7 separate regions of the Homo sapiens genome follow, and all the other regions are linked to region 1. The links come from fine-mapping of genetic effects on gene expression. A gene starts in region 1. Each other region holds a variant in brackets. All regions are shown on one strand. Distances are between the middles of the regions. Region 1 holds the start of DST (dystonin). Region 2 overlaps DST (dystonin). Region 3 overlaps DST (dystonin). Region 4 has its middle 120 kb from the start of COL21A1. Region 5 overlaps DST (dystonin). Region 6 holds the start of DST-AS1 (DST antisense RNA 1). Region 7 overlaps DST (dystonin).

Region 1 (4,521 bases):
CTAAAAAGAGGGGAAATTATCTTAGGATAAGTGGAGGTTGGCCTGAAAACTCCTAAAGAAATCCTAGGTCAAGGAGCGCTTGTGTTTCTTCAGTGGAGCTGGTTCCTGGGTGCAGTGATTAGGAGTTACTTGCCCTAGAGGGATGGTCCACGTTTTGAGAGTGGAGACTAGCACAAGCATTTAAGCACACACTACCATCATCGCTTTGCAAAAATCATCAGATGGTCCCCAATAAAACATGGAGAGCTTTAGGAGAAAACAGAAATGTAAACTTGAAAATCGAAAATGAAATGCATATGGATCAAATTGTTCTGCACTAACCTCTTCGTTTATCCAAGTGAACAACCAGAGTCAACTGACAGCACCCAGAAAACACTTCCACCAGCAAAATATAAACTGTAAACTCAAGTGACATCCACCCTGTGGCTAAGTTTTTTAAGGTCTGCAGCACTTTTAGGGTTTGCCTTTTCCCCTCTTGTACAACAGCTCCACTACACAAGAAATTTGCTAAAACCGTTCGCTGGGCACTAATATGAAATCACTTAAAAGGAAACATGCCACTTTCGGCTAGGGGACAGCATGTTCGTCATTCAGTGTCCTACTGGTTTCTTAACACGCATATAATTAATATTGGTACTCAGGAAAGAGAACTTCTTCTGACCTTGAGCGTGCGCGCTAAATAAATTACCTCAGAACGAAAGTGGTGCGATCTCAAAACAGCATCTGGGGAGAAAAGAGATAAATGAGACTTCATTTAACTCCTTGTTCTTCACCTACCGAGTGACTCATGACTTACCTGGGAGACCAGGGTTGGGAAAGCACATCGCAGACTCCTGGAATTCGGTGGGACATCCTGGGGGAGGGAGGAGGAGTCCTGGGGCCATCGGTCTCTACGTGATTTCTCCGCGAGAAGTTTGCATGAAAGTTCTGGGGGAGTTGGGGAGCCCCGAAGTTTCCATGCCTTACTTTCTTACCCCTACGCTCCAGCGAAGGATGCGTGAAGGCGAGGCTGGCGCAGCCCCGGACTACGCTCAAATTACCCTTAAGGCTTTAGCAAACTGACTAAAAATTTGAGTTCTTTCCTCCCCTCCCTGCCCTCGGCATCGCCGTGGTTATTCAAACCTGGGAGACTGGAGGGCGGAGGTGACGGCAAAAAGGGCAAGGGGCGTTAAAGAAACGCACTCAGCCTGGGGAGTGGGCAATGATGGGGCTAGGGGCAGCCGAGGAGAAGGGAGCGAGCCGCGCTTCACTCTCCAAATCGGCTTAATTGTTCCTGGTAGCCCGCAGAAACCCGTCGCGGCGTGTCTTACCTCGGCTTCTTGAACGACCCGAGAAGACCGATTTCATCGGATGCCTCCCTTTCTGGAGCTTGCGGTGCCAGCAGCAGAAGAAGACGATGGTGGCGATGGTGCCCAGCAGAAGCAACAAGAGGAAGAGGGCACATTGGATGCTGTAGGGTCTCAGCAAGACGAGGAAAGCCGCGGCGATCATGGTGCGGGCGAGGCGAGGGCGACTCGACGGCGGGGCTGGAGGGCGGCGGCACAGGCACCCGCGCTGGGCGCACGCCGGGACGGCGGGCACGGGTGAGCGCGGCTCAGCGCGTCATGCCTGGCGCTCGCGGCCCCGCGCCCAGCCCAATGGCTGCGCACCCCGCGCCAGCCGCGCTACGCGAGTGATCCAGGGCTGCGGGGAGCGCTTGCCATGACTCAGCAGACAGCGACGAGGCTGCGACTCGGCGGCTGGGATCCTCTCCCCTCCCTCCCCAGGCGCCCCCGCCCCCGTCCGTGCGCAGCCCCCGGGCGCAGCCCCGCCGGGGACGCGGCGAGTGGGGAGGAGCAGCGCCGCCGCCGCGGCCGCCCGGGCCCCGCGCATCGTCCTGCGGCCGCCGCCGACCTCAGCATCCCAGAAGCCGGGCGCACGTGGGTCGGGGCGGGGACGCGGCGCTCAGGCTGCAGCCGCGGCAGCCTGCGGGGGGCGGGAATGGGGCGCCGCGGCGGGGGCTCGGCTGATGACATCACGGCCAGGCTGCGGCAGCGCGGGCGCGCGGACATGGCTGCGGCGGTTTCGGCGGCGTCCGCGGGCTGCACCCGGGCCTGAGAGCCCAGCGCCCTCCCGCGGGGCCGCCCGCCAGTCCGCGCCGTCCGCGGGTGCATTGGCCGGGTGCCTCTAGCTTCCCGGACACCCGGAGCTTCCGCCTATCCAGCCTCCCTCGGCCAAATTGCTGCGGAGCCCGTCGTCAGGGGGCGCCAAGGAGCCAGGGGGAAAACCGAGAGGCGCTGACAGGAGCCTCCCGGCGGTGCTACCCTCCACCTCCCACCTCCCTGCGCCCCGCCCCGAGGTTGGGGCTTTGAAGAATGCAGCCGGGTGAGCTATTGCTTGTGGGGGTTTCCTCGCACTCTGAAGCGCGAGCGCCGGGAAGGGCCTTCCCTGGGAATTGGGATACTCCAGGAACGGGAGGCCCACTCCTCTCCAAGCCTCTCTAAACTAGGAGCGCTCCGGGGTAGTACGCTCTGGTCGGCAGAGGTGAACTCTTCCACCCCAAACTTGGTGCTTATCTCGCAGCTAAGAATTGGGCACTTTCGATCTTCTTGTATCCCTGGGTTTGCCCTAAAACCCTGACTCATTTAGTGCATTTGAAGGGCAAGGCGATTTCAGATTTAGGGACCTGGCAGATGAAGTAAGTTGGTACTTGGCTTATAAACATTTGGGGGAGAAATTTTTTAGGGAGTGTGAGGCAATAGTGATCTCTCACACTTGCAGGCACACTCTGTCTCCCCTTTGTCCCCTCCCCACGTTTCTTCATAACCAGCAAAAAGTATATGGCAGTTGGTGGCCAGGGGATTTAACACTGATGCAATGCCAGCACGGAAGGTATAGCGAGAGCGCTGCAGTGTGCCTTTCTGCGGACGGCCACGGCCACCTGGCCAGGAAGCGGCTGCTGCAGCAGTCATTCTGCGGCATCTTGCGGCCTTGGCGGGCGGTGCTGTGCCGCGTTCTGCTGCCCCCAAGGCAATGCTGGCTTTCCCTGTGTGGGGCTGGATTGTTTGTTTCATTTACTCGCATAAGAAAACTTTAATTATAGTGACAAGGTAACACTTGACTGCATTTGCGGAGTTTCTTATAACAACTGTATTAGCCTCTTTTTTGGAATATTTAATAGACTGAAGAAATTGTGTCATAAAAATTTATAAAAATTTGAAAAGCAGGTAAATAATTGGGAGGAATAAAAGTTTTATTTGCTTGTAGTGATCTCAAAATCAGTGTTGTTTTCCAACTATACAAAACCGTACAGCTCTGCATGAAAGCTTAATCATTGATGTCCTTAAAGCCAGTAACATATTACCGTGTGTAAGTATTAAACCTAAAAAGGCATTGGTTAATGCAGTCTCTTAGTGCCAGATTCATAAGCATGGAAAACAACAGATACGTTTTGTTTACAGCTGGTTTCCTTAAACAAAATAAACATTCGAATTGTTGACATGTTGCATCTCATTCATTCAGTTGTTTTGGATTGAACTCAGAAGGGCCCTTGCTTGGAGACACTGCATAAGGTGGGAATTTTGAATGGCAGCATGTAGGCTGCACTGAATTCCAGGATAGGCTTCATGGGTCTCTAGCACTCAGAGTGGGTGACAGGTAGCACTACATCATGTGCATATGGCTAAAGGTTTCTTGATACCGCAGCCCACTGCAGTGAGAAACTATTCAACAATTATGCAGAGGTTATTGAAGAAAATCCTGAGAGTTTGCAATGTGTGGCACATCAGGAAAGGAAGAATTCTCCACCGCATTGACTCAACAATGGCATGGTGGAGTAATTTTAAACAACAAAACTGAACTAACCGTGTGCAGACATTGGGGGAAATAACTAACAGAATTTTGGAAGGTCATCTTTATGCTTCTCATTGACTGAAATTTGTAAGTGAGCTGAAATAGCCTACGTATCCTTGAACAGAAACATGTCAAAGACACACAGAATAGTATTCAAATTGCCCCAAACGCTATATTTTTTTAACAACAAAAAGCAACTAAATAGCTATTATGGTTTTCTGAGCTATGACTTTAGCACAACTGTTATCATCCTGCGTCTTGCTGCAGCCATTTATAAGTTTCAAGTGCACACAAGAACATCATTTATCTCTCTTGGCAGGCAAATGCTTAACTGCCATGCAATAGGATTATAGATATTTCTTTTTAGATGCATTCATTTCTGTTCTTTCCATCAGTTGTCTTAAAGATACTAATAATAAACAAACCAAATCCTTGAAAGAATTTAGTATTTAGTTCCATTGTTATTTTCTGATTTGTTTGTTGCTAATTTATCATTTTTTCCAAATAACAGCATACATAGTATTAATTGCTTCTGTCTGTGTGTTTATGTGGTGCCTAATGCATTGCGGAATTCAATAAATACTAAATCAGCCAAGCAGTGCTTTTTGGAAGTTAATTTAGTAGAAATTATACCTTGCCTTCCTGGTAGGTTTTTGCTTTAAAAAAAGAATAATTGACATTGTATAAAAG
Region 2 (4,521 bases), 170 kb before region 1:
GTATAAGGAAGGGATCCAGTTTCAGCTTTCTACATATGGTTGCCAGTTTTCCCAGCACCATTTATTAAATAGGGAATCCTTTCCCCATTGCTTGTTTTTCTCAGGTTTGTCAAAGATCAGATAGTTGTAGATATGTGGTGTTATTTCTGAGGGCTCTGTTCTGTCCATTGATCTATATCTCTGTTTTGGTACCAGTACCATGCTGTTTTGGTTACTGTAGCCTTGTAGTATTGTTTGAAGTCAGGTAGCGTGATGCCTCCAGCTTTGTTCTTTCGGCTTAGGATTGACTTGGTGATGCGGGCTTTTTGATTCCATATGAACTTTAAAGTAGTTTTTTCCAATTCTGTGAAGAAAGTCATTGGTAGCTTGATGGGGATGGCATTGAATCTATAAACTACCTTGGGCAGTATGGCCATTTTCAAGATATTGATTCTTCCTACCCATGAGCATGGAATGTTCTTCCATTCGTTTGTATCCTCTTTTATTTCATTGAGCAGTGGTTTGTAGTTCTCCTTGAAGAGGTCCTTCACGTCCCTTGTAAGTTGGATTCCTAAGTATTTTATTCTCTTGGAAGCAACTGTGAATGGGAGTTCACTCATGATTTGGCTCTCTGTTTGTCTGTTATTGGTGTACAAGAATGCTTGTGATTTTTGTACATTGATTTTGTATCCTGAGACTTTGCTGAAGTTGCTTATCAGCTTAAGGAGATTTTAGGCTGAGACAATGGGGTTTTCTAGATATACAATCATGTCGTCTGCAAACAGGGACAATTTGACTTCCTCCTTTCCTAATTGAATACCCTTTATTTCCTTTTCCTGCCTAATTGCCCTGGCCAGAACTTTCAACACTATGTTGAATAGGAGTGGTGAGAGAGGGCATCCCTGTCTTGTGCCAGTTTTCAAAGGGAATGCTTCCAGTTTTTGCCCATTCAGTATGATATTGGCTGTGGGTCTGTCATAGATAGCTCTTATTATTTTGAGATACATCCCATCAATACCTAATTTATTGACAGTTTTTAGCATGAAGAGTTGTTGAATTTTGTCAAAGGCCTTTTCTGCATCTATTGAGATAATCATGTGGTTTTTGTCTTTGGTTCTGTTTATATGCTGCATTACATTTATTGATTTGCGTATATTGAACCAGCCTTGCATCCCAGGGATGAAACCCACTTGATCATGGTGGATAAGCTTTTCGATGTGCTGCTGGATTCGGTTTGCCAGTATTTTATTGAGGATTTTTGCATCAATGTTCATCAAGGATATTGGTCTAAAATTCTCTTTTTTGGTTGTGTCTCTGCCCGGCTTTGGGATCAGGATGATGCTGGCCTCACAAAATGAGTGAGGGAGGATTCCCTCTTTTTCTATTGATTGGACTAGTTTCAGAAGGAATGGTACCAGCTCCTCCTTGTACCTCTGGTAGAATTCGGCTGTGAATCCATCTGGTCCTGGACTCTTTTTGGTTGGTAAGCTATTGATTATTGCCACAATTTCAGAGCCTGTTATTGGTCTATTCAGAGATTCAACTTCTTCCTGGTTTAGTCTTGGGAGAGTGCATGTGTTGAGGAATTTATCCATTTCTTCTAGATTTTCTAGTTTATTTGCATAGAGGTGTTTGTAGTATTCTCTGATGGTAGTTTGTATTTCTGTGGGATTGGTGGTGATATCCCCTTTATCATTTTTTATTGCATCTATTTGATTCTTCTGTCTTTTTTTCTTTATTAGTCTTGCTAGCGGTCTATCAATTTTGTTGATCCTTTCAAAAAACCAGCTCCTGGATTCATTAATTTTTTGAAGGGTTTTTTGTGTCTCTATTTCCTTCAGTTCTGCTCTGATTTTCGTTATTTCTTGCCTTCTGTTAGCTTTTGAATGTGTTTGCTCTTGCTTCTCTAGTTCTTTTAATTGTGATGTTAGGGTATCAATTTTGGATCTTTCCTGCTTTCTCTTGTGGGCATTTAGTGCTATAAATTTCCCTCTACACACTGCTTTGAATGTGTCCCAGAGATTCTGGTATGTTGTGACTTTGTTCTCGTTGGTTTCAAAGAACATCTTTATTACTGCCTTCATTTCGTTAGGTACCCAGTAGTCATTCAGGAGCAGGTTGTTCAGTTTCCATGCAGTTGAGCGGTTTTGAGTGAGTTTCTTAATCCTGAGTTCTAGTTTGATTGCACTGTGGTCTGAGAGACAGTTTGTTATAATTTCTGTTCTTTTACATTTGCTGAGGAGAGCTTTACTTCCAACTATGTGGTCAGTTTTGGAATAGGTGTGGTGTGGTGCTGAAAAAAATGTATATTCTGTTGATTTGGGGTGGAGAGTTCTGTAGATGTCTATTACGTCTGCTTGGTGCAGAGCTGAGTCCAATTCCTGGGTATCCTTGTTAACTTTCTGTCTCATTGATCTGTCTAATGTTGACAGTGGGGTGTTAAAGTCTCCCATTATTATTGTGTGGGAGTCTAAGTCTCCTTGTAGGTCACTCAGGACTTGCTTTATGAATCTGGGTGCTCCTGTATTGGGTGCATATATATTTAGGATAGTTAGCTCTTCTTGTTGAATTGATCCCTTTACCATTA[C/T]GTAATGGCCTTCTTTGTCTCTTTTGATCTTTGTTGGTTTAAAGTCTGTTTTACCAGAGACTAGGATTGCAGCCCCTGCCTTTTTTTGTTTTCCATTTGCTTGGTAGATCTTCCTCCATCCTTTTATTTTGAGCCTATGTGTGTCTCTGCACGTGAGATGGGTTTCCTGAATACAGCACACTGATGGGTCTTGACTCTTGATCCAATTTGCCAGTCTGTGTCTTTTAATTGGAGCATTTAGTCCATTTACATTTAAAGTTAATATTGTTATGTGTGAACCTGATCCTGTCATTATGATGTTAGCTGGTTATTTTGCTCGTTAGTTGATGCAGTTTCTTCCTAGTCTCAATGGTCTTTACATTTTGGCTTGATTTTGCAGCGGCTGGTACCTGTTGTGCCTTTCCATGTTTAGTGCTTCCTTCAGGCGCTCTTTTAGGGCAGGCCTGGTGGTGACAAAATCTCTCAGCATTTGCTTGTCTGTAAAGGATTTTATTTCTCCTTCACTTATGAAGCTTAGTTTGGCTGGATATGAAATTCTGGGTTGAAAATTCTTTTCTTTAAGAATGTTGAATATTGGCCCCCACTCTCTTCTGGCTTGTAGAGTTTCTGCCGAGAGATCTGCTGTTAGTCTGATGAGCTTCCCTTTGTGGGTAACTTGACCTTTCTCTCTGGTTCTCCTTAACATTTTTTCCTTCATTTCAACTTTGGTGAATGTGACAATTACGTGTCTTGGAGTTACTCCTCTCAAGGAGTATCTTTGTGGCGTTCTCTGTATTTCCTGAATCTGAATGTTGGCCTGCCTTGCTAGATTGGGGAAGTTCTCCTGGATAATATCCTGCAGAGTGTTTTCCAACTTGGTTCCATTCTCCCCGTCACTTTCAGGTACACTGATCAGACGCAGATTTGGTCTTTTCACATAGTCCCATATTTCTTGGAGGCTTTGTTCATTTCTTTTTATTCTTTTTTCTCTAAACTTCCCTTCTTGCTTCATTTCATTCATTTAATCTTCCATCGCTGATACCCTTTCTTCCAGTTGATCGCATCAGCTCCTGAGGCTTCTGCATTCTTCACGTAGTTCTCGAGCCTTGGCTTTCAGCTCCATCAGCTCCTTTAAGCACTTCTCTGTATTGGTTATTGTAGTTATATATTCGTCTAAAGTTTTTTCAGAGTTTTCAACTTCTTTGCCTTTGGTTTGAATTTCCTCCTGTAGCTCGGAGTAGTTTGATCGTCTGAAGCCTTCTTCTCTCAACTCGTCAAAGTCATTCTCCATCCAGCTTTGTTCCGTTGCTGGTGAGGAACTGCGTTCCTTTGGAGGAGGAGAGGCGCTCTGCTTTTTAGAGTTTCCAGTTTTTCTGCTCTGTTTTTTTCCCCATCTTTATGGTTTTATCCGCTTTTGGTCTTTGATGATGGTGATGTACAGATGGGTTTTTGGTGTGGATGTCCTTTCTGTTTGTTAGTTTTCCTTCTAACAGACAGGACCCTCAGCTGCAGGTCTGTTGGAATTTGCTAGAGGTCCACTCCAGACCCTGTTTGCCTGGGTATCAGCGGCAGTGTCTGCAGAACCGCGGATTTTCGTGATCCGCGAATGCTGCTGTCTGATCGTTCCTCTGGAAGTTTTGTCTCAGAGGAGTACCCGGCCGTGCGAGGTGTCAGTCTGCCCCTACTGGGGGGTGCCTCCCAGTTAGGCTGCTCGGGGACCCACCTGAGGAGGCAGTCTGCCCATTATCAGATCTCCAGCTGAGTGCTGGGAGAACCACTGCTCTCCTCAAAGCTGTCAGACAGGGACATTTAAGTCTGCAGAGGTTACTGCTGTCTTTTTGTCTGTGCCCTGCCCCCAGAGGTGGAGCCTACAGAGGCAGGCAGGCCTCCTTGAGCTGTGGTGGGCTCCACCCAGTTCGATCTTCCAGGCTGCTTTGTTTACCTAAGCAAGCCTGGGCAATGGCAGGCGCCCCTCC
Region 3 (4,521 bases), 21 kb before region 1:
AGGGAGGCTGTACCCTTCAAAGCCACAGGGGTGGAGCTGCCCAAGAACATGGGAACCCACCTCTTGCATCAGTGTGACCTGGATGTGAGACCTGGAGTCACAGAAGATCATTTCGGAGCTTTAAAATTTGACTGCCCTGCTGGATTTTGGACTTGCATGGGCCTTTGTAACCACTTTGTTTTGGCCAATTCCTCCCATTTGGAACTGCTGTATTTACCCAATACCTGTAACCCCATTGTATCTAAGAAGTAACTAGCTTGCTTTTGATTCTACAGGCTCATAGGCAGAAGAGATTTGCCTTGTCTCAGATGAGACTTTGGACTTTCGGGTTAATGCTGAAATGAGTTAAGACTTTGGGGGACTGCTGGGAAGGCATGATTGGTTTTGAAATGTGAGGACAGGATTGGTTTTGAAACGTGAGGACATGAGATTAGGAGGGGCCAGGGGCTGAATGATATGGTTTGGCTCTGTGTCCCCACCCGAATCTCATCTTGAATTGTACTCCCATAATTCCCATGTGTTGTGGGAAGGATCCAGTGGGAGATAATTTGAATCATGGGGGTGGTTTCCCCCAGACTGTTCTCGTGGTAGTAAATAAGCTTCAGGAGATCTGATGGTTTTATGGGGGGTTTCTGCTTTTGCTTCTCTCTCATTTTCTCTTGCCACCAACATGTAAGAAGTGCCTTTTGCTTCCCGCCATGATTCTGAGGCCTCCCCAGCCATGTGAACTTTAAATCCAATTAAACCTCTTTTTCTTCCAGAAAAAGTCTTCCAAACCTAGTCTCAAGTTTGTCTTTATCAGCAGAATGGAAGTGGACTAATAGAGGGGCATTTAAGGGAAGAGCAATTCCTTGACCAGGGTATTCTGGAAAGCCACAGAACAGGCATAGGAGGAACAGGCAGCCGGGAGGCAAGAGAAGGGTGGGAGAGAAGGAGGAGGGAAAACAGCTGAACTGAAGTTCAACTACTCTGTATTTTCTCAAATATGCCTGGTAACTCTAGTTTACTCACTTAATTCCATTCCTATATACATCAAATATTTAGCCAACATCAAATATTCAACAAATAGTAAGTGCCTATTCCATGCCAGATGCCACACAAGGCTATGGATACAAGATAAAAATTACATACCACCTGCCTTGGTGTGTAAATCCCCATATCTGGTGCCCTCATCCAGTCCCAGAGTGAGATGGAGCAGGGACACTTCTTAGGGGTCTGTGGGTCCCAAGCATAGAAATAATAGAAAATCCTGAGTTCCTTCAAGGGAATTTCCAGGTACCTAGGTCTCCCTGAGAAATAAATGAGCAACTAGATAAGCAAGAAGGTAATAGTAGCTTAAAACAATCTCCCAGGAAGTTAAAATAATACAATGTTTGGTTCTCTATAGAAAGTAAAGATAAAATCTTAACATATGTTCCTGAGTTGTTTTTCAGAAACCCAGACCCCCACCGAACAGCATGTAGACCTCAGATAGGAGGAACTGAGGACTGATCTCTGACCACTTCTCTTTGCTGTAAATTTCTTCCTGATGGTCCTGAAAGAAGTCACACCAGAAACCAGAGCTAACAATCTTTTCTGCTGACCCAGATCTTAAACAAAGCTTCCCTTCCTTAACCAATTGCAAAACAGAAAATCTTTTAATCTACCTATGACCTGCCCCCACTTCAAGATATCCCACCCTTTGTAGGCCAAACCAATGTGTAACCTCTGCATATTGATTTATGATTTTGTCTGTAACTTCTGCTTTCCTAAAACTTAACCATGCCTTTAAGAACTCGACTTGCAAGCCATTGAGGAGATCAGGTCTTTCAGCATAAGCTGCACTATTCTCCTTGCTTGGCACCCTGCAAATAAATGCCCTCCTTTCTTCCACTGCAAACCTCAGTGTGGATGTTTGGCCTTACCGTGCCAGGTGAGCAGGCCCCAGTTAGTTCAGTTCAATAACAAGAGGGGAGAATGTCCAGGAAGACTAAGGGAAGAATGTGAGATAAAGAAAGGAAGAAAATGATGTTTAATCCTCATTTTTAAGTAGAAATGGGAGTTTG[C/T]AACAACAACAAAAAAGTAGAATAGAGGGGTTCCAGCATGAGCAATGGCATGAAAACAGAATGGGGTAGGGAACCAAGCAGCTGGGTCTTGTTTGAGTTTAAGGTGTGCATTAGAGGTATGTGGGAGCTGATACCAAGAAAGGGTGTACTTATCCTGTAAGCAACGGGAAGCCATTAAGCAAAGAAAAGCCATTAAGCAAAAGGAGTGGAAGATCAGATCTTATTTCAGATAGCTTACTCTGCCAACAGTATCATAAAAAGTGAACTGAAACCCAAAGCCAAGGAAACCAGATAACAGGCTTTTGTAAGAGCCAATTCCTACATTGTCTCTGGCTTAAGGGCTTTTACATTTGTCACTATTACATTTTGTTTTATTTTATATACATATATATATTTTTTATTTTTTAGAGATGGGGATCTCACCATGCTGCTCAGGCTGGTCACAAACTCCTGGCTTCTAAAAATCTTCCCATCTCAGCCTCCTAAGTAGAACATTTTATTTAATTAGATGCTACTCATCTTTCTAGCGATTGCCTTCACCAGGTGACTGCAATTTATCCTCAAACAGGGACACTTTTTAAGATGGGATGCTAAAACAACAGACTTAAACTCAAATTCTCCCCCTCCTCAGCCCCTACCAAAGGGCTAATAGAATCTGCCCATCACTGGGGGTTGTTAGCATAACACATACTTGACCCTCAAAAAATGGCAACTGTTGCTTTTCTACTTAGTTTTTATTTTTTTAATTTGGAAAGCTAACAATAATAAATCACTTTTGTTATGGTCTGGGCTTATAAATTCCAGCACACTGCCTGGAAATGCGTTAGCTCAAGAGGGGGACAGTTTACTAATTTGTCAATCATCAGCCCACTAGTGCACTTTTATATACATATAAAATATACATATTATATATTATATTATATATATATATATATATATATATATATCGTGAGAGAGAGAGAAGGAGGGGAGAGAGAGAGAGAGAATATGACATGGAGAGAGAGAATTAAGGCACACTAATGTCTCCATCACCAAAATGGAGAGATCATTGGTTTTGTGAACTATCTCAGATTGGCTGCCCTCTGACATTAAGGATGCCTCTAGGCTGACCCTTCCAATAACTTCCAACTCTCAGTTTAACATATACTCAGAAAACACAAAATAATTTTAATATTATTCTTAAAAAAAATTAGGAAGCTATATATTCTTTAAAAAATATTGTAACATATTCCAAAGCCAAATATTGATGTCCACTAAAAGAGTTTACTAGTGTTTCTTTGAGCAACTTAGGTAAAAAAGAGTTAACTAAATATATCTAAAAAGAAATTTCTTGTTAGCTTCATGGATGATTCCCATACTGTCACCCTATCAATTGGCAGTATCTCCGTTTTCCTAAGCTACACACACTACTTCAGCTTTAATTAAAAGGCCCGTTGCCATAGTTTCTCGGCGAACAGCTCAAGGCATGCTTGAGTCCATTATTAACTGAAGTTTCTAGAGAAATTGTAATATAGCAGTAGCCAGCCAAAATTTCCCAATTTTATCTCCCACCCAGAACAGCTGATGATTCAGACATACAGCTAGGTAATCCAAATATTTCAAGAGAGTCTAAACAATTAAGAATGTATTTGGGATTCACTTTGGGATGCCCCACAACCGTTTTTAAAACAAGAGGCAGTCACACTCTAGATCAGTCTGAAATGCTCGCAACTGCCTGCTGCCTGCTGCGTGCAGCTCACTGCAGAGTGGGCAGTAGCAGGAATATACTATTTAATGTTCTTTTAATGATTCTTCAAAGTTGGTCAGTTAGTTATTTAAAACTTGTTAATGGTCTACTGCTTAATTACTTCTTAATGTGAAATTTCTACTCTTTGTAAACTCATCAGTAAATATGAAGTGATACATATTGTTTTCTTTAAAATCTGCAAGTAGTTCTTTAACCTCAATCTATTTTATGTACAGAAGTTGGAGACAAATGCAGAAAATATAAAGAATAATGAGATTGCCGGGCACGGTAGCTCACACCTGTAATCCCAGCACTTTGGGAGGCCAAAGTGGGCGGATCACGAGGTCAAGAGATCGAGACCATCCTGGCCAACATGGTGAAAACCCGTCTCTACTAAAATACAAAAATTAGCTGGGCATGGTGGTGCGTGCCTGTAGTCCCAGCTACTCAGGAGGCTGAGGCAGGAGAATTGCTTGAACCCGGGAGGCAGAGGTTGCAGTGAGCCGAGATCACACCACTGCACTCCAGCCTGGTGACAGAACGAGACTCTGTCTCAAAAAGAGAAAAAAGAAAAACAAAAAGAATAATGAGATTGGACCAAAAAAATAAGAAAAGAAACTTTTCCAAAATGAATAATCTATTGATGTTTGATTCCTAAAAAATTTGTATAATGGTAAAATAAATGGAATCTTCAGTATTTCATGAGTTATATGTAGCAATACACATCTCTACCAGCATCATCTTACCAAC
Region 4 (4,521 bases), 580 kb before region 1:
CGGTTAAGAGCACAACAGTGGCTATCCAGGGCAGTGACCACTTTGTTATTTGATTAAAATTCCAGTTGGTCATGGTTGGAACCAGGTTCTTACTCCACAACCTCTTCTCCTCACCCCCCTTAAAATTCACTTACATTCCTTTTGTTTCAGAGTTATCTGCCATTGGCTGCCAGGGAAAGTTTGTTTATATTTCTTGGGAACGAAGCTTCAAGGTCACTTCCTATCATTAATTCTCTGTGAGCAAGTGTCGCTTGGGACATTTCCTGTTCCTATTCTCAGTGGTGCTGAGGAAGAGAAATTTTCAATGGTCTCTAATTTTTAATCTTCTACAGCAGTCTTCAAATATATGCTGGATGCTGGTATACCATTCATTTTATTTAACTGTGACTATTTCAGTAGAAAAATGTCCACATAATTTCTCCATTAAAAATGTAATATGCTCACTGCTGAGACTCTATCTGTAGAATGGGCAGCATGGTATTTTCTGCCATCTTTGGAAACAAGCTAGGTGGAGTACAGATTGCTTAGAAATCAATGCAAATAAATACTAAGTATGAATCCAGAGTATCTACTATTAGCTGAATATCGAGAACCAATTGTTTTGGTCATCTTTCCTAACTATAGCCAAAAGACAAAATTCAATTCAAAACACTTAAGTAAAAGTGTTATTTTAATCATTGGTGGCTTTTTAAAGATGGAAATACTAGTAAAAAGTGGAAGGACTTACCCTAGAAGATAATGAAGGCATACTATAAAGTTATAATAGTTCAAGCAGTCTGATAACAGGGTAAGAATAGCCATAAGTCAATTCAAAACAAAATGAATACTAGATAAACGCAGGACCCATCAAAAACCATCCTACATATCACACAGCAAAAGAAATCTAAGATGTGAGAGGGTGTTATGTAAAATTGTGTCCATGAAAGAATCAAAATATTGATAAAAAAAGTGTCTGATGTTGAGACCCAGAGGCTTTTCTGGACATAAAGGTAGAAAAAAAATAAAGAAAAAAAACTGATGTATGTGACTGCAAAAGAATGTAAATCTTCCCATCTTAAAAGAATCCTGAACAAGATAAGAAAGGAAACAATTGTGAAAACTTTTTTTATAAGATATGATAAAAGGAGTTAATGTGTTCAACAGAGAGAGATCTTTTAAATCAATTAGAATTAATTCAATGTCTCCATCATAGAAATATGGGCAAAGGATGTAAATAGCCAATTCGCCAAAGAAGAATCACATAAATGGCCATAAATACGAAAAAATTGCTCAACCTCAATGATATTCAAACAGAAACTAATTAAAACAGCCACAGTAAATATTTATACAAAACCAATTGATATTCAGAGTGAATGTACAGCTATTAAAGGTAATCACACTCAGCTACTAAAACTTCTTTCATTTGAATTAAAAGCAAGGGAAATGCTCATGATATATTTTAATTGGAAAAGTATCATACAAAACAGTTTATGTTGAATGGTTGTAATTATTCAAAAATATATGCTTACGTGTAAACATAAGCTAGAAAAAGACTTGAGGCCATATAGGCGTTATCTCTAGGTGGTGAGATTTTAGGCTACTTTAAATTTCTTGTTATGCTTTTCTGTATTTGTCTTTTCCTTTATTAATCAAAAAAACAGAAAAGGTCAACGGCCCACATGGAGTCTGATCTCCAGGTCCTCGCCTACATTCACGTTCCCAGCAGTGGCCGCTTGAGGACACTAGGCTCCTGGATTGCCTGATTCAGATCCCGATCTGGAAAAACCTGTCTCTGTTCCCGGCCTTCCTCAGAGTTCAGCTTCCACCGGCATCACGTCCCTCTCTGAGCACACACCGTGAGAATTAATCAGAGCCTCTCTGTAAAATGTGAGATTTGTCAAATATATGAAAAGCTAAGCAATAAAATTTGACACACCAGCTAAATACAGGTGGTGTTAACATGCAGTTTAAAATAACTGCGGTCCCTCTGTGAGGGCACTGCACATGATTAACACAGAACTCTATCCTATAGCTGGTGTTATTCCTGCATTTTTCAAATGCTTTTACTTGGACCTTTTCAAAATAAACCGTACAATTGGGCTTTATGTGCTTATATGGCAAAGCTGCTCCCTATGATACCATCACAAGGCGAAAGCATAAAATCTAGTTAAGAGTTCTTGCCAAAACATGAATCAGTTGTAGCATAATATTCTGAACTCTGGTCTTCTTTTTTTCCATTCTCTAATATTTCTTCACATCACAGCCCAAACAATTGCTCATAATTAAACTGAGTGCAGGAACAGGCCCTGGCAGGAAATGTACTTGGCAAAGATCCAATAGCTCTTCATTGTCCTCCACACAGAACAATTACATCAGTTCCTTCCATTCCCAGAAAAAGAATGGATTTTGCAGAGCAACAGATGAAAATAAAAGGAAGGAGGCAGCTTATTTACATATTTCTAATCAGGTTAATATATAATCTTTTTATGGAAAAAGGAAATGCCTTGAAGAATTGAATGATCATCTTAAAAACCTGCTTTC[C/A]CTTCCTCTAGGATCTGCACCACATGCTGACCACAACTTCTGCTCACCAGTTACTCATGTCTGCTGAAAACCCTCCAGGTTCAAAGGGAAATTCAGCCAATAAGTGTGATATATTCCAGAGTCTGGAAGCTTCAAGAGAAGTTAAATGCCATCAAGTTGCTGTTTGAAAAGTTAAAAATGTATCGTCACTCAGTTCTTCAGCATCTGCTATTTATTCAGTAGATTCACTGAAAATCCTAATGCAGAAAGAGGATTTAGGGACTACATTTGTACACTGGGATAGGGTAAGATAAGAGACATCTTATGAGTTGTTTGGCTTCAGCTCATCTAAATGACAAGGAATCACAGCCCAATCTGCTGCATTCTGATGACCAATGCTTTATCAGCTTAAGGGCATGCCAGGAGAGTCAGGTGCCCAGCCCCACCTCAGGGGCAACCAAGGTGAAGAGATATCGGCCTTCAACCCAAGTTCCCCCCATTCACGTGGACCATCCCAGGCCTTTCCTCTTCTGCCTGTTCACCAGCTCCTGGGTAGACTGGAACTTCTCAGGGTTCCCCAGGAAAGGGCAGTTTGAGTAGAGGGGCCCATCCTCATAAATCCAAGAAGTGCCAGAGACATGCAGAATCTGCAGTTCAGCCTCTCATTGACATCAGATGAAAGAACACTATATCCACAGGAGTGTCTGAGCCATTCAGGAGAAGTGGGTACCATTTTGGGTGCCAAGAAGACCTTAGACTTTCCATTCATATGTTATTTGAATTCCTTGACCTTTCATCTATTTCTCCTGGGCTAAACCCCTAAAGGCCTCAGCTCCCTGGGCCATCAGAGAAGTGAAGATGATCGGACAAGCAGAAAGGAGTTTCCAGAATCCACACCCAAGTCCCTGCTCCACAGAGCTGGGCTGAGTCCCCTTGTGACTGGGTTGGACCCAAGAAACAGGGAGGCCAGAGGTGCTTAGCAAAGTGAAGGGGGACAAGGCAACAAGTATTGTGCCCCAGAAAATGAGGGGACAGCTCCAAGATGTTTATTCCCCCAGAGAATAAATCCTTGAGGTGTGTCCTACACCAGAACACTAATTCAACAGGGCCAGAGATATGCCAACTCCTGGAGAGGAAGGAGCCGGCTTCTAATCAAATGTTTACAAATGGATTCCTGTACAAATCCACAAATCTTAGAGACAGTCAAAGCAGACACTTTGACCCTGCAACTGGACATAGAGCATGGATTTCATGCTCTCATTAGCTGAGAACAGTATTCCTTGAAATACAGGAGACAGGAGCAAAATTAGAGAAAATCTGGATAATTTGATCTGAGAAAGCATTTACACAGGACAAGGAGAGACTGGCCAACCTACCAGGCTGGCTGACAGGAATGGTGGTTCTCTTCCTCCTCACTCAGGCTTGTCCATGTGTCAACGCATCAAGAGTATTCAGAAAGTATTGGCAGGGAGAACTCTGTAAAAATGCCCCAATAAAGAAGCAAGAATATGATTTCTACACTAATAATGAACACAGCACCATATAAGGCAGGAATTTCTTGTTTACAAGTGACAGACGCTCAACTCATAAGGGAGTATGTAACTAAAGCCAAAAAGGGAATTTATCAGCTTATGTAAGGCTGGAGTGGGGGGAAAAAAGCTTCAGGAACATCTAGATTCAGAGGCTTCAATAATGTCATCTGGGCTTTGTCTGTCTCTCCATCTCTTGGTTTTTCTCCCTCCTTTATGTTGGCTTAATTCTGCAGTCCAGTTCTCCCATGATAGGGAAGGTGGCTGTTGTAATGGTATTGGTCATTCTTTTGTTCTGTAGCATCTGGAACTCCTCTCTATGTTTAGGGAATTTCCTGCCTCATAACTCTTGGTGAGGCGTGTGCCCTCCCAGTATAAAAACTGAAAATGTCAGATGTTTGATTTCCCATATGCCTTTGCAGCTGGGGATCTGGCATATAACCCAGACTACCCCTAAATTTGGAGCTAGAAAGCAAAATAAAAAAAAAAAAGA
Region 5 (4,521 bases), 220 kb before region 1:
AAACTTTCTAGACCTGCGTTGTTCAGTACTGTAGCCACTAGTCACATACACCTATTTAAGTTTAAACCAAAGTTAATTAAAGCAAAATACAATTAACAATTCAGTTTCTTTGTTGCACTAGTCACAATTTAAGTGCTTGACAGTCACATGTAGCTAATGGCTAACATATTGAAAAGCAGAGAAATAGAACATTCTAATCATCACGGAAATTCCTATCAGACAGCACTGCTCTAGAACAAAGCTCTACTGGACAGCGCTACTTTAGAATAATTTGATATAGAATAATCCCATCATCACAGAAGTTTCTGTCAGACAGCACTGCTCTAAAACAAAGCTCTACTGGACAACACTGCTGTACAACAATTTGTTAATATACATAAAAAGCCCTAAAAATACCTACGACCTTTCCCAGCAAATCTACTTCTAAAATCTATTCTGAAGTTATAATCATATTATGTACAAAATGTAACTATGAGAATATAAATCAGAGTGCTTACAATAGGAAAATAAAAATTCTGAAAAAACACAAATGTTCGAGAAAAGGAAATAAGGAAATTTTAGTAAAGTGATACAATGGTCTGTTCAAATTCAACTTGTTGTAAGACTACTCAGTGATAGTATTATCATTTAGAGTTCTCCTACTTTAATGCCAATAAGAATGGGGGGGAGGAACATATAACGTACTTTTTATTTCATAAGCATTTCTTCTCCAAAGTACCTCATTGAAACACCTTCCATTTCCTATCACTGTCAGGGAGAAAAAAAAGGTACTTATATACAGCCCATCTTTTGATTCTGCCTATAATACCTTTTCAGTGCCCCCAACTTCTAATCTACTTCTTATTTAAAAATTAGATAAAGGGGTGCAGAAAGCATTCCCAGACAGTAGAAGTAGTTTGCTAATTCTGAATATAAATGCTCAGAATTTATACTAAAATTTTTTTTTGAGACAAAATCTTGCTCTGCTGTCCAGGCTGGAGTGCAACGGCATGATCTCAGCTCACTACAACCTCCGCCTCCCAGGTGCAAGCGATTCTCCTGCCTCAGCCTCCCGAGTAGCTGGGACTACAGGCATGTGCCACCACGCTTGGCTAATTTTTTGTATTTTTAGTACAGATGGGGTTTCACCGTGTTAGCCAGGATGGTCTCAATCTCCTGACCTCGTGATCGGCCCGCCTCAGCCTCCCAAAGTGCTGGGATTACAGGCGTGAGACACCGAGTCTGGCCTGGTTTTATCTTTGTTTTGTTTGAGACAGTCTCGCTCTGTTGCCCAGGCTGGACTACAGTGGCACAATCTTGGCTTACTGCAACCTCCACGTCCCTGGACTCAAATGATCCTCTCACCTCAGCCTCCCAAGGAGTTGGGACTACAGGTGCATGTCACCACGCTTGGTGAATTTTTGCATTTTTTGCAGAGATGGGGTTTCGTCATGTTGCCCAGGCTGGTCTTGAACACCTAAGCTCACGCCATCCACCTGCTTCAGCCTCCCAGAGTGCTGGGATTATAGGCGTGAACCACTGTGTCTGACCCTAAAATTATTTTATTTGCCTCATTCCAAGTGTAAAACCCCCAGGCACTTTGCTTAAAACTGCTATCAAAAGCAATGATATTAATAATTATGAACCAATAATATTATCCACAAAATATTTATTAATTCCTCTATTGGCCCCTTAGGGGCATCATCTATACCTCATTCATCTTTGTCTACCACATACTAGATGCCACAAAGCCTCTATGCTGCAATGCCTCTATGCGCTCAACAGATAGATGCCCATTGTGTGAAATAATTTTATTTCAGGAAGGACAATCCAACTGAGGAAAACAATGTAGAATTACTTGTATACATATATACAGTAGTATATACAACTATATCTCTTAAAGCAATAATGGTGTCCTAAATGTCTTTCGGCCTTGCTATTCCTAGACAGTTCAAAATGAACCTAAATTACCAATTTGTTGGTAAAGCAAGAACAAGGAAACAGAAACAATTTACTAGTTCTCTTCACTGATAAGTGCAGATTCTGTACTTCCCTCATTTACTCACTCTTCATCCTAGCATCTATCTGGTCATTTAATGAGTCCAGTGCTATGGTGGTGCTGGTGTCAGAGGGGTGTGAACTAGAGCAACTCCATCTTGAATAGGAGCTAGGTAAAAGGAAGCTGAGACCTACTGGGCTGCATTCCCAGATGGTTAAGGCATTCTAAGTCACAGGTTGAGATAGGAGGTCAGCACAAGATACAGGTCATAAAGACCTTGCTAATAAAACAGATTGCAGTAAAGATGCTGACTAAAACCCACCAAAACCAAAATGGCAACGAGAGTGACCTCTGGTCGTCCTCACTATGACATTCCCACCAGCGCCATGACAGTTTACAAATCCCATGGCAATGTCAGGAAGCTACCCTATATGGTCTACAAGGAGGAGGCATGAATAATCCACCCCTTGTTTAGCATATCATCAAGAAATAACCACAAAAATGAGCAACCAGCAGCCCTCAGGGCTGCTATGTCTATGGAGTAGCCATTCTTTATTCTCAGCTCGCTACAACCTCCGCCTCCCAGGTTCAAGGGATTCTCTTGTCTCAGCCTCCTGAGTAGCTGGGATCACAGGCATGC[G/A]CCAACACACCTGGCTAATGTTTGTATTTTAGACAGGGTTTCGCCATGTTAGCCAGGTTGGTTCCAAACTCCTGACCTCAGGTGATCCTCCCGCCTCGGCCTCCCAAAGTGTTGGGATTACAAAGTGTAGGCCAGGCGTGAGCCACCGCACCTGGCCTACTTTCTTAATAAACTTGCTTTCACTTTATTCTGTGGACTCACCCTGAATTCTCTCTGGCAAGAGATCCAAGAACCCTCTCTTGGGGTTTGAATCTGGACCCCTGTCCTGTAACACTGAGACCACCAGGCTGCAGAGAAAGCACTAGTCTTGGTTTCTGAAGCTCATGACCTGGAGAGGACACCTGACAGAAAGGCAGTGTGGTAAGCACACCAGTTGAGAGAAGTACATGGCACTCACCATGTATGCAAGCACAAAAGAGAGAAGGACCAACCTCATCCAGGGCAGTCAGGTGGGGCTTAAAGGACAGGAAGTAGGGTAGCAAAACAGAAGCCAGCCATGTGTCAATTTCTCCACTAAAAAGAATCTCTGACTTAATCATTTAACATTGAAAGAGCCTTGGTTAGGACCCAACTCTTATGTTTCCCTACAAGGTTGCTTCCACTATCCCCAAGATACTGTCATTTTTCAAATGGAAGTGCTGACCACATCTCAGTCACAGACAGGGAGCTGGGGAATCTGGCTCTGTGATGTGATGTGAACTTTGGACAACTGATTGCAAACAATGGAAGTTCTGTGCCAAAGTCTAGCACTCATATCACATTTTCAGCAGTGATGTTCTAAGCATCCAGCAAAAAGAAAACAGAGTAAATGAAAAAAATTACTTCCTAGGTAATATCCATATTATTCCCATTAAATAACAACCAAGGCCCCTGATGCTAAATCCTCAAGAAAAAAAAATTAATAATATATTAAAAATCTTTATAATTCAAGAATAGAGTTTCCATATAAGTCACAAAATAAATTTAATCTATTATGTGTATTATATAAACTATTTTCTTCTTGGGTAAAAAAGGGTTAACAAAATAGATTTCTTCTTTTCTAAGTGAATAAAAACTGGTCCTATAGTTCAAGGAACATGAGGTAAAACAGATTCTATAGATAAATTGGCTAATTACTTACCAAAGCAGTATATTAAGAAAGCTGATTTAATCAAATAATTTACCTCTAAGTACAGAGGTACTTACTATACAAAGGTTCTTTTGATCAATGAGGTTTTGTTGTTGTTGTTGTGCTAGATGCTCAAAAGCACTGCTAATAACATGATATTTCGTAGGTACTACTGAGGTAATATCTAGGAATTATGATCCGTAACTAAAGTACATAAGATACAAAGACTAAATAACACACATAATTCATAAATTCTGATACTGTTTTCTAACAGGAACAACCTAAACCTCTTCTTTTAAACCATGATCAACTTAAATGAGTCCCATTCAAATACCAAAATATGCTCTTTAACATGAGAAGGCTTCCACAATGCTACAGGAATGAGAAAAGAGTTAATGTGAATTCTAAAGGCTTCAACTTTCTTCAAGAGAGCAACCTAGAGTCAGAGAATAATTTAAGTCTGGGAAGACTTTGTAAATCACACCACTTTCCATACACATTATTTCAAAAGGGAGTTATTTCAAAAGGGAGTATTCCAGATTACACCATCTAATTTTCCAATTACAAGTCTCATAATGGTTCTTTATTTCATTTCAGTTAGAGATGTCTAACACTGAGATTTATATTTAGAGCAATGTTGCTACAGCAACAAAAAGGGAAACTCATTCCTGTGATTTTAAACAATTGAACTTTTATAACATTCCTCTATTTGAAAATTATTTCATTTATAGATTAAGTTTTCAATAAAAATATATATTTATATCCCCCTTATAAAGTGTAACAGCTGAAAATATG
Region 6 (4,521 bases), 110 kb before region 1:
AATTCTTTTCTGATTAGATCAGTCCCCACAGCAAGTCACCAGGATAATAAGCAGTGTAGTGAAGTCATCATACTGGATACTGATGGGAAATCATAACTGGCTTCAAAACACATCGGGAAACAATGAGTTTTCCAGGTCTCCAGCTTTTCATGGAATACACTGCCCAATACTCTTACTTTCCTTTCCATGACTAAATGAAACATAGCACAGCTATAAAGCCCAAGTACAAATTGATGAACTAAGCATTTTAAAAACCTTAAGTAAAAATGAGGAAAACTCCCATCATTTTTTCAGTGACGTCTGAACAATATGTTTGAAAATGTATCTGTTTAAGGGCAATACTGATTGTTGTACACTGGCCTTCAGATCTTTAATTTCCTTTTATTTCCAAAGGCAAAGACAAGCTTTTAAACAATGCCTACTTCTTTTAGACAAAGTCAAATAAGCACTCGTTTTCAGTCACCTGAAATCACCCACGTGTCACTTAAGTAAAACTTCATGTGACAAAAATTCATTCAGCTATAATTTTTTTCAAAAGTATAAAATGTATCTACTTTAGAACTTTCAGATTTTTTTATTTCTGACTGTATAGAGCACAGATGTATTTCTTCAATAAGGTTTGTTGGTCTATATTGCAATATTTCTCCTTTTCAAAGCTCTGGAAACAACTAATTACAAACCTTACTTTAAAATGGAGTGATGCAGGTAAACATGAGTATATTACCCACCCACCCACATACACACACACACACACACAAATGTCACAAATGTGCTTTAGCCTAAAATATCACTGCACTTGCTCAGTGGCAGTATTATACACAATAAGAGTCTTGGCACAAAGGAATTCTCATTGTACTGTTTACAAAATTCTACAAGGATTGCAAGAATTTCGGTTATAAAACATATCCTACAAAGAGAGAAAACAATTGTGAGTGTATTTGGGCTTTTTGGGGCTTTGGAATTTTATTGTTTAGTTCAATTTTTTTTTATTTCTACTTTCTACTAATAGAAAAACTACATGCATCATTAACCATATAATACCACTGAAATTACTGACATTGAGTTACCAAACCCAAAGCAAATATTCAAAAGATATAAAACCATCTGAATCCTACCTATGAAATGGGTCACTATTCACTATAAATACTTTAAACCTCTGTGAGCTGCTCTTGAGTTCGGAGTGTTTTGGGAGCCACAATAAAAAGATGGTATACACACACTTAAAAATACATTTCCAGACACAAAAACACTTAAAAAATGGACAGCTGCAATTTGTATTTCATCATTATATTCAACTATGAAGTCCAAGTAAACATTATACTAAAACATAAATATCAGATTGGCATAGAATTTCCTGAACATAAAGGATGGGCAGAAAAAAATCTCAAAATACATTCTTTACATTTAAATTTACAACAAACTCACTAAAGTCTTTTATCCATCACGCTATAAAATAATTTTTACAATATATCAGAGTAAGTATATAGTCACAAACTTTATCAAATAAGAAAGATCATTTTAAGGAAAATGATCTAGTGATGCTGAACCTTTTCTACAGGGCTAACCAATACCCTAGCCAAGCAGCAGCAGCAATGCCTTAGTAATCCCATAGAGAATAATCGGTATCCACCCTCCCAGGAAGAATTATGATTACGCGTAGTGCTTAAGAGCTTTTACAAGGGAGAGAAAACGCAATGTGCTTCTTGGAAACAACCCCCTTCCCCCCTCTCTACCGCTCATCTAAGGGCGTCTCCGGACTGTCGCCCACCCCACCATCCTCCCTGCGCTGGGGGTACTAAATCCCGTGCAAAAAGACCTGGTCCATTCCCAAGACTGGTCCAGACACCTGTTTACTCGTGCCCAAGGAGTGGTGGCTCTGATTAAGGAAAGGCAGCGGTTGCCTCTCTGATCAGTGCCAAGCTCCGCAGCCCCAGGGCAGGGACCACATACCTTTGTACCTCTCCAGGACATCCTCGTAGGCCTGGAGATACTCCTGCTCCTCCACGTACAGGTAAGCAGCAGGGGAGAGGTAACCCGCCATGCCGAAGTTTATCTAAGCGATGACTGACAAATTCCCCTCTCCCCCTCGTAACCCCCGGACAGTATCGCAGTCAGCAAGACACAGCCTTGGGAACTGGAAAAGAGGAAGGAGCAGCACGCTGGGGAGAAGCACGGAAGCCGAAGACGCAGAGCGGGGGCGCAGGGGGCTGCCGGCGCCAGGGCCGGCAAAGGAAACGCCCAGGCCTCCGGGCAGGCCGATGGTGGGCCGCCCGGCTCCGGGAGCCCGAGTCCCTCTCGGGTTTCAGCAGCGGCAAATCTCAGCGAGCCCAGGGGCGGCGACGAGCAGCGCCACGCCAAGCGGAGGAGCGGGGCGTGCGGCGAGGGCGGGCGGGGGCCGGCGGGCGCCCGGACCCTCTGCGGCCGCGCTGACCGCTCTGCTGGCCCTGCACGAGGCGCGTGCTTCGGGCCGGGCCGAGGCCGCGGCAGCGGTGCGGGAGGACCGGCGCGCTGCCTTCACCGGGGATGCTGCGCGGCGCATCTGCGGCATTTCCTGGCCGCCGCGCCGCAGACACTCGCCCGCGCCGGGGAGAGAGGGAGGGAGGAGGG[T/A]GGAGGGTGGAGGGTGGAGAGTGGAGGGTGGAGGGTGGAGGGTGGAGGGCGGAGGGCGGAAGGGAGGGGGCGAGCGCGGCGGTCAGCGCCCCGGCTGGCTCAGCTCCGGCCCCGGCGCCTCTCGGCCCCTCCCTCCCAGGCAGAGCCACGCGCCCCAGGCCCCCTCCCCAGGCCCGCCCACCCTGGTGGACCGTGCGGCCAAGCACGCCCACCCCCGGACACTGGCTGCCCGGTCCCGGATCCCCAAGGGCGACGTTTCTATTTGGGATCCACAACAGGTGCCTGAGAAACAAAGCCGCAGATCGCTCCACCGCTGTGCGCAGCCCCCTGCTGAGGGGCCAGCGGCTCTCCCTGGGTAAGGGATGATCGGGGGGAGGGTTGGAAATACTTTCTTCCACCCATCTTTTTGGCGTGGGAGGATTCAGGTCACTCTGTGACAGCACAGGGCAAGGAGGGCACGGGGGTCCGCGTCTAGGGGACATCCCGGGGACAGGGTGAGGAGGCCTCTGCAGGTGGCCCCGCGCATCAGCGCCTGACAGCCGGGCCGCGCCTGCGCCTGAGCTCCCGGCCGCCGCGAGGCTGCCGAGTACCAGCCTGCGGTCCCTCCCTTCTGCCCCCCAGAGCCCACAGGCGCATCTGCTGCTGGGCTCCGCGGCGGGCCTATAGGTTCACAACTGCCCCATATTTATCACCTCCCTCCTGCTCTCTCCTTATTATTCATTCTACATAGTACTAGTATCCATTAAACTGAGTAAAATGGATACAGTTCCCTTAAATTAGATATATGTGTATCATATACTAAAGTGGGTGAGTTTAAGCGTCCATTGGAGGAACCAACTGATACCCAGGCATGTAAATGGATGTGTTTAAGAGTAATGACTGGCCGGGCGCGGTGTCTCACGCCTGTAATCCCAGCACTTTGGGAGGCCGAGGCGGGTGGATCACGAGGTCAGGAGTTCAAGACCAGCCTGGCCAAAATGGTGAAATCCCGTCTCTACTAAAAATACAAAATTTAGCCGGGCGTGGTGGCGGGTACCTATAATCCCAGCTACTCGGGAGGTTGAGGCAGAGAACTGCTTGAACCCGGGAGGTGGAGGTTGCAGTGAGCCGAGATCACGCCACCGTATTCCAGCCTGGGCGACAGAGCAAGACTCCGTCTCAAAAAAAAAAAAAACAGTGAAGTCAGGCTGCTGTACATAGAATCTTCACTCCTTACTGTGTCACATGGGCAAGTTACTTATCCTCTCTGAGACTCTCTTCATCAGTAAAACAGCGATAGTAGTGCCTAACTCATAAAGTTGTATAGTAAATGAAGTTTAGAATAATGTCTGGTGTTATATAAGGATTAGCTGCTGCACCTACTACTTTATTTAGGAGGTGGGGTCTCACTCTGTCATCCAGGCTGGAGTACAGTGACAGGATGATACCTCATTGCTACTGCTATTATTAGATAAATCAGCTGATTGTTGACAGTCTGACCTATGTCAACTTCACGTCTTGTCTAAATCTTCCTTCCCTATTTCCTCCTTTCACATATACTGACCTTTTGCCCTCCATGATTTTTTATTTCTTTGTTAGCGTTGGGTGTTGTGAACTATGGACCATTTTCCATTAATGCTTAGATAGGGATGAGTTCCTCTTGAAAGAAAAAATTGTGTACTCGTGGGAAAAAAAAACTGACTTGAGATAGAACTGGAGCACTCCTCAGCAATTGGCCTACTTCTGTTACTCCAAACAAAGCAAGACCACATCTCTTTTTTCTATCCTGACCACTGGTTTATAATCTGAGTTTGAACCACTGTCCCAGTAAGTCTTTAAGGTTACTAGAGTTTTCTTACAGCTCGATATGCATTTGTATGCACATTAGTTCATAAAGTAACAACCAGGCATCATATGGGACACCTTCTTGAAATA
Region 7 (4,521 bases), 67 kb before region 1:
ACTTGCCAATACACAGGTAGCCTAGGGTGGCCAACACAGATAATGCAGGCTGTGAGCAGACTCTCAAAGATGTAAAGCTACTCCCTGGGAATGAGTCACATTGGGATACTGAATAATTCCTCCAGTCAAATGGAATCTATATTCTTCTCCCTGGAAGTTCTCACCCAATTCTCTAAGCATTGTCAGAGATAAAGACTAAATAAACATAGGATAAACACAGGAGACAACAGACTGCAAGGATGAGAGAGGTCTGCTTCTAACTGACCTTATGAACTTAAGCCAATCACCTACTCACTGAGGTTTAGTTTTGTCAAACTGGATCAATAATATATGCCATACCCAACACACAGGGTGTTTGTTCAGGAGATAATGAATATGAGCAGTCTTTGAAAGTATGAAGTGCTACTTAACTACGAAGTACTACTCCAAAGCTATAATTTTCCTGAAACAGCCAGGCATGGTGGCTCACGCCTGTAATCCCAGCATTTTGGGAGGCCGAGGCGGGCAGATCACCTGAGGTTAGGAGTTCGAGACCACCCTGACCAACATGGAGAAACCCCGTCTCTACTAAAAATACAAAATTAGCTGGGTGTGGTGGCACATGCCTGTAATCCCAGCTGCTCGGGAGGCTGAGGCAGGAGAATTGCTTGAACCCAGGAGGTGGAGTTTGCGGTGAGCCGGAGATCGTGCCATTGCACTCCAGCCTAGGCAATGAGAGTGAAACTCAGTCTCAAAAAAAAAAAAAAAAAAAAAATTCCTGAAACATTACTGTCATTTCTAGAACTGAATTCTCATCTCCCAAAGCACAAACTAAATTTTGTTCAATTTCCATAGATTGATTTTTTTGAAACACAATCATCATCTCAGAACTAAAATAAATAAATAAAGAGAGAGAGACAGAAAATATTGAGAGAAATCAGACCCTTATCACTCACTTGGAGGTGGTTTAGAAGAGTAAAACAAAAATGATGTTTGGAAAAATTAAGAATTAGACTTAGGAGAAAAGTTCAGAGAGATAGAACCATGAGCCTAGAAAAGAAACAATTTATTGATTTTCAAGTACAATTAACTTGCTGCTAATTAGCACTATTTAATGGTAGGAGATTGTATCACTAAAAGTACTGAAGCAGAGAGGAATCTAGCATTACAAAAACTGTTAAGTCAGATGAGCTCTAAGATCCCCTCAAGCTTTAACATTCTTTGATTCACAAAGACTGAGAGTGACACGGTAGCAGGTGGCTATGCTTCATCCTCTCCACAGAGGATACCACAATAAGAAATGGTCTTAAATTGTAAGGCATGGGATTTAGGGCAAAGATCAAGGAGTTGTTTCAGGCAGAGATGGCTGTTAAATTCCAAACAGAATTCTGAGGTAAGCTATGGCTGTGTCCTTTAAAATAAAGGAAGCTATACCCATCTTACCAGAGCAATTTAAGGATTTCTTTGGTTAGAGGTGAAATAATAAACTAGACCATCTTTGAAGGGGCTTTCTTTTCAGTCCTTTGATCCATAGTTGTCCATGAAAATTTTCAAAGTGTAAGTGACTATCTAAATGTTTTCTTTAAGTTTCCTTGGTTTGGAGATTAAAGAATTTAAGGTTTTTTTTATTTAAGACAACAGGTTGTCATCACATACAAGAAAGACATAGAAAGAATGGCAAGAGGTCTTGCTTCAGTCAAAATACTGACCTCAAAAAAGAATCATGAGTTATGAACACATGCTTATTTTTCTCCAAGCAGAACACATGAATCCCTTTACCAAGTTAATCTTGGTTTCATGAGTTGTTTATAGAGACTAAACTGTTCATTCAATACAGTCTACCTACCTTGCACATTCTTGTGCCCCTGTGCATTAATTATTCCAATACCTTACTGTAATTTATTATAGCAAGCCTATAATAAATGAAATCTTTTTTTTTTTTTTTTGAGATGGAGTCTCGCTCTGTTACCAGGCTGGAGTGCAGCAGTGCGATCTCGGCTCACTGCAACCTCTGCCTCCCGGGTTCAAGCGATTCTCCTGCCTCAGCCTCCCAAGTAGCTGAGACTACAGGCACGTGCCACCATGCCCAGCTAAGTTTTGTATTTTTAGTAGAGACGGGTTTCACCATGTTGGCTGGGATGGTCTCAATCTCTTGACCTCGTGATCCGCCCGCCTCAGCCTCCCAGTGTGCTGGGATTACAGACGTGAACCACCACACCTGGCCATAAATGAAATCTTTTATAAAATTCTATTAATTATGAACCTAAAAAGGGAGGTACAGCAATATGTAGCAAAGACTCAGTACATTGAATGGGTGTCATTCAAAAAAATTCTTTTCAGATAATTAGCAAAAGAAATTTGACTTTATTAATCAATTCATTCTCCAGAATTCCAAAGGGGAAAAGGAAACAAATGTTTCCTCTAAGAGCTTTGGATTTGCTAGTTAATTAGCCAAAGTAAGGTATGAGTTGTACAGTTATGCCTTCCACAAAAGGGGAAATATCCTAAGGTTATGCACATAGAGCTGCCTGGTCCTACATATTTGAAAAGGAAAGGGAAAAGGAAGACCATTTTAATAATCTAAGCAGGAAAGGAACACAGAAACACCCTGCTATATTTTCAAGAGATCAAGGATATATGCTTAAGTCTTTCCTACACTCCAAAAAGTTCCCAACTACAAATATGACAAAATCTGGTTAATTTAATTATTACAAATTAAAGCTATATAATGTTCCAAAATATACTGCAGCCTTACAAAAACCTAAGCTGTAATCAGAAAAACAGAAAATTTCCCCAAGACTGAAAAACAGAAACCCACAACAGAAGGAAAAGAAGGGTGAGGTCAAGGAAGTGGTGGTTTAGTTG[G/A]GGAGAGTTCAGGGAAGGGAAAATCTAATGAGTACATCTGGGACTTCATTTCCTGCTATTTTCTCTAGTCTCTACCTGAGTGGCCTTTTCTTGGCCTAAAATGAATAGCCTTAAATCAAAGTCAAGAGCTACCTAGACCCATGTCTGCTTAAGGCATTTATATTTCTGAGTGAAGAGTTGGAAGTTATAAGCGATCCTCAGTCCTCTTCCCAAACTCTCATCACTGGCAGACTCCAAGGCTCAGACCTCAAGTGTCTTCTCTTCTCTATCAAATTCATTTTCGGAGTCATCCCACCCAGTCTTATAGATTTAATAACATCTATGTACAAATAATTCTCACATCTTCCATGAAATCCAGACACAAGAATATCTAATAGTTATTTCAAACTTCACATATCCAAATCAGAAAATTTTCTTTCCAATCCTCAATCCAAACCTGCTTCTTCCTTTGTGCTTACCATTTCAGAAAAGAGGATCACCCAATCACCTGTGTTAGGCCCATATGTCCTCCAACTCCTCAGTCAAAACTGTCAGGTTCAAAAATCCCATTGCTTGATGGTGGTGGGAGCCCAAAAGTAAGAAAACAGGTGCTCAGAGGCTAAGATTTTGCCAGCAGGGAGAACAAGCTGCAGCTTTGGCAATAACCTGGGAACACTAGCAATTTTTAATTATACTTTTTCAGCTCAGTGAGAAAGTCTCAAAGATTCTAAGTCACCAGGAAATGCAGGCAATGCTGTTGCAGTGTGCAAAAAACTGGAATCAGTGAAATGTAACAGGAGTAGAGTCAGTATGTTTGATTATTTCCTGATGCTCTAAAACTGTTATTTCCCCATACCCACCCCCAATCTCAAACACATAAATACTTTTTGGGTCTGAAAGTTGTACATTAACAGGTTCATGTGAGCAGGCAGTAGGGCAAAATTACTCTTGCTTACTTCTTGCTACCTCCTAGGTGCCCTGCCACAGAAAGAGGGGGCCAATTTTGCCAATAAAATGATGGCAAAAATGATGTTTGAGGTTTACCTATGGTTTTCAATACCATTTTAAAGATAGGTTTTAATTGATGTAATAGTTTAAAAACACAAAGATTTCATCCATATCTACCATCTATGCAGTTAGAAAAATGAGACTCAAAGTAATTAAAATACTTCAGGAAGGCTGATGAGGATAAATGTCTAGCACTAGAATTGTAATCATGGGGAGTTCTCCATTCCTTACTCAAAAACGGCTCAAGCCAAGAGTGCCTAGGTTTAAATGTTAACTCCATGATCTACCAGCTGTATGACCTTGACACATTTCCTCCCTGGAAAGTGAGCACCGACTCCAGAGAATCGCTGAGAAGATAAAATGAGAGAAAAACAGAGAAGAGTGCAGAGAACAATGCCCATGTATTGTCAATGAGGTAAACATGCAGTAATGCAAGAGTTCTTATGATGATGATGATGATGTTTAAAAATCCTGGGATTCAGAAACAAAACAAAATGCTTTGTAATGTGAAAATACTAAGGAATAAATGGAGATCTGGATCTAATTATCTTTTCTGTTTCAAGATGGTAAAAAAAATTCCTAAGCATCCTAGTGACATATCTTAATATACAGTATAAATCCAAATACATATGTACTGAGAGGAAATCAGGATAAATTTTTAGTTTATCCACTTTTAGAAACATCTAAAAC

What was found. PIP is the estimated chance that this variant, and not a neighbour inherited with it, causes the effect.
Region 2: its variant is fine-mapped to the expression of DST in whole blood (TOPMed, PIP above 0.99).
Region 3: its variant is fine-mapped to the expression of DST in whole blood (TOPMed, PIP 0.96).
Region 4: its variant is fine-mapped to the expression of DST in whole blood (TOPMed, PIP above 0.99).
Region 5: its variant is fine-mapped to the expression of DST in whole blood (TOPMed, PIP 0.98).
Region 6: its variant is fine-mapped to the expression of DST in blood mononuclear cells (TOPMed, PIP above 0.99).
Region 7: its variant is fine-mapped to the expression of DST in whole blood (TOPMed, PIP 0.98).

Annotation. Positions count from the first base shown.
Region 1 is chr6:56,953,097-56,957,617 of GRCh38, forward strand. DST (dystonin) reads right to left here and starts at 1,734. Exons shown (of 104, transcript NM_001374736.1): 1 at 1,311-1,734; 2 at 689-723. The coding sequence starts at 1,491. It overlaps BEND6 (BEN domain containing 6), which reads left to right and starts at 2,011. Exons shown (of 7, transcript NM_152731.3): 1 at 2,011-2,364. RefSeq lists an enhancer at 717-1,348 and a silencer at 1,510-2,199.
Region 2 is chr6:56,780,908-56,785,428 of GRCh38, forward strand. The region is part of intron 4 of DST (dystonin); the gene reads right to left. Among named protein-coding and RNA genes, the nearest start is that of DST-AS1, 61 kb to the right of the region's middle. The variant C/T (reference allele first, on the strand shown) is at 2,567.
Region 3 is chr6:56,931,598-56,936,118 of GRCh38, forward strand. The region is part of intron 2 of DST (dystonin); the gene reads right to left. Among named protein-coding and RNA genes, the nearest start is that of DST, 21 kb to the right of the region's middle. The variant C/T (reference allele first, on the strand shown) is at 2,046.
Region 4 is chr6:56,368,508-56,373,028 of GRCh38, forward strand. It overlaps a transcript of COL21A1 not described here. Among named protein-coding and RNA genes, the nearest start is that of COL21A1, 120 kb to the left of the region's middle. The variant C/A (reference allele first, on the strand shown) is at 2,521.
Region 5 is chr6:56,737,393-56,741,913 of GRCh38, forward strand. The region is part of intron 4 of DST (dystonin); the gene reads right to left. Among named protein-coding and RNA genes, the nearest start is that of DST-AS1, 100 kb to the right of the region's middle. The variant G/A (reference allele first, on the strand shown) is at 2,619.
Region 6 is chr6:56,841,105-56,845,625 of GRCh38, forward strand. The region is part of intron 4 of DST (dystonin); the gene reads right to left. DST-AS1 (DST antisense RNA 1) reads left to right here and starts at 2,882. Exons shown (of 4, transcript NR_125866.1): 1 at 2,882-2,962. RefSeq lists enhancers at 1,455-2,323, 2,324-3,191 and silencers at 2,275-2,534, 2,625-2,824, 3,165-3,304. The variant T/A (reference allele first, on the strand shown) is at 2,608.
Region 7 is chr6:56,886,045-56,890,565 of GRCh38, forward strand. All of the region lies in intron 3 of DST (dystonin), which reads right to left. Among named protein-coding and RNA genes, the nearest start is that of DST-AS1, 44 kb to the left of the region's middle. RefSeq lists an enhancer at 1,504-1,673 and a cis regulatory region at 1,589. The variant G/A (reference allele first, on the strand shown) is at 2,845.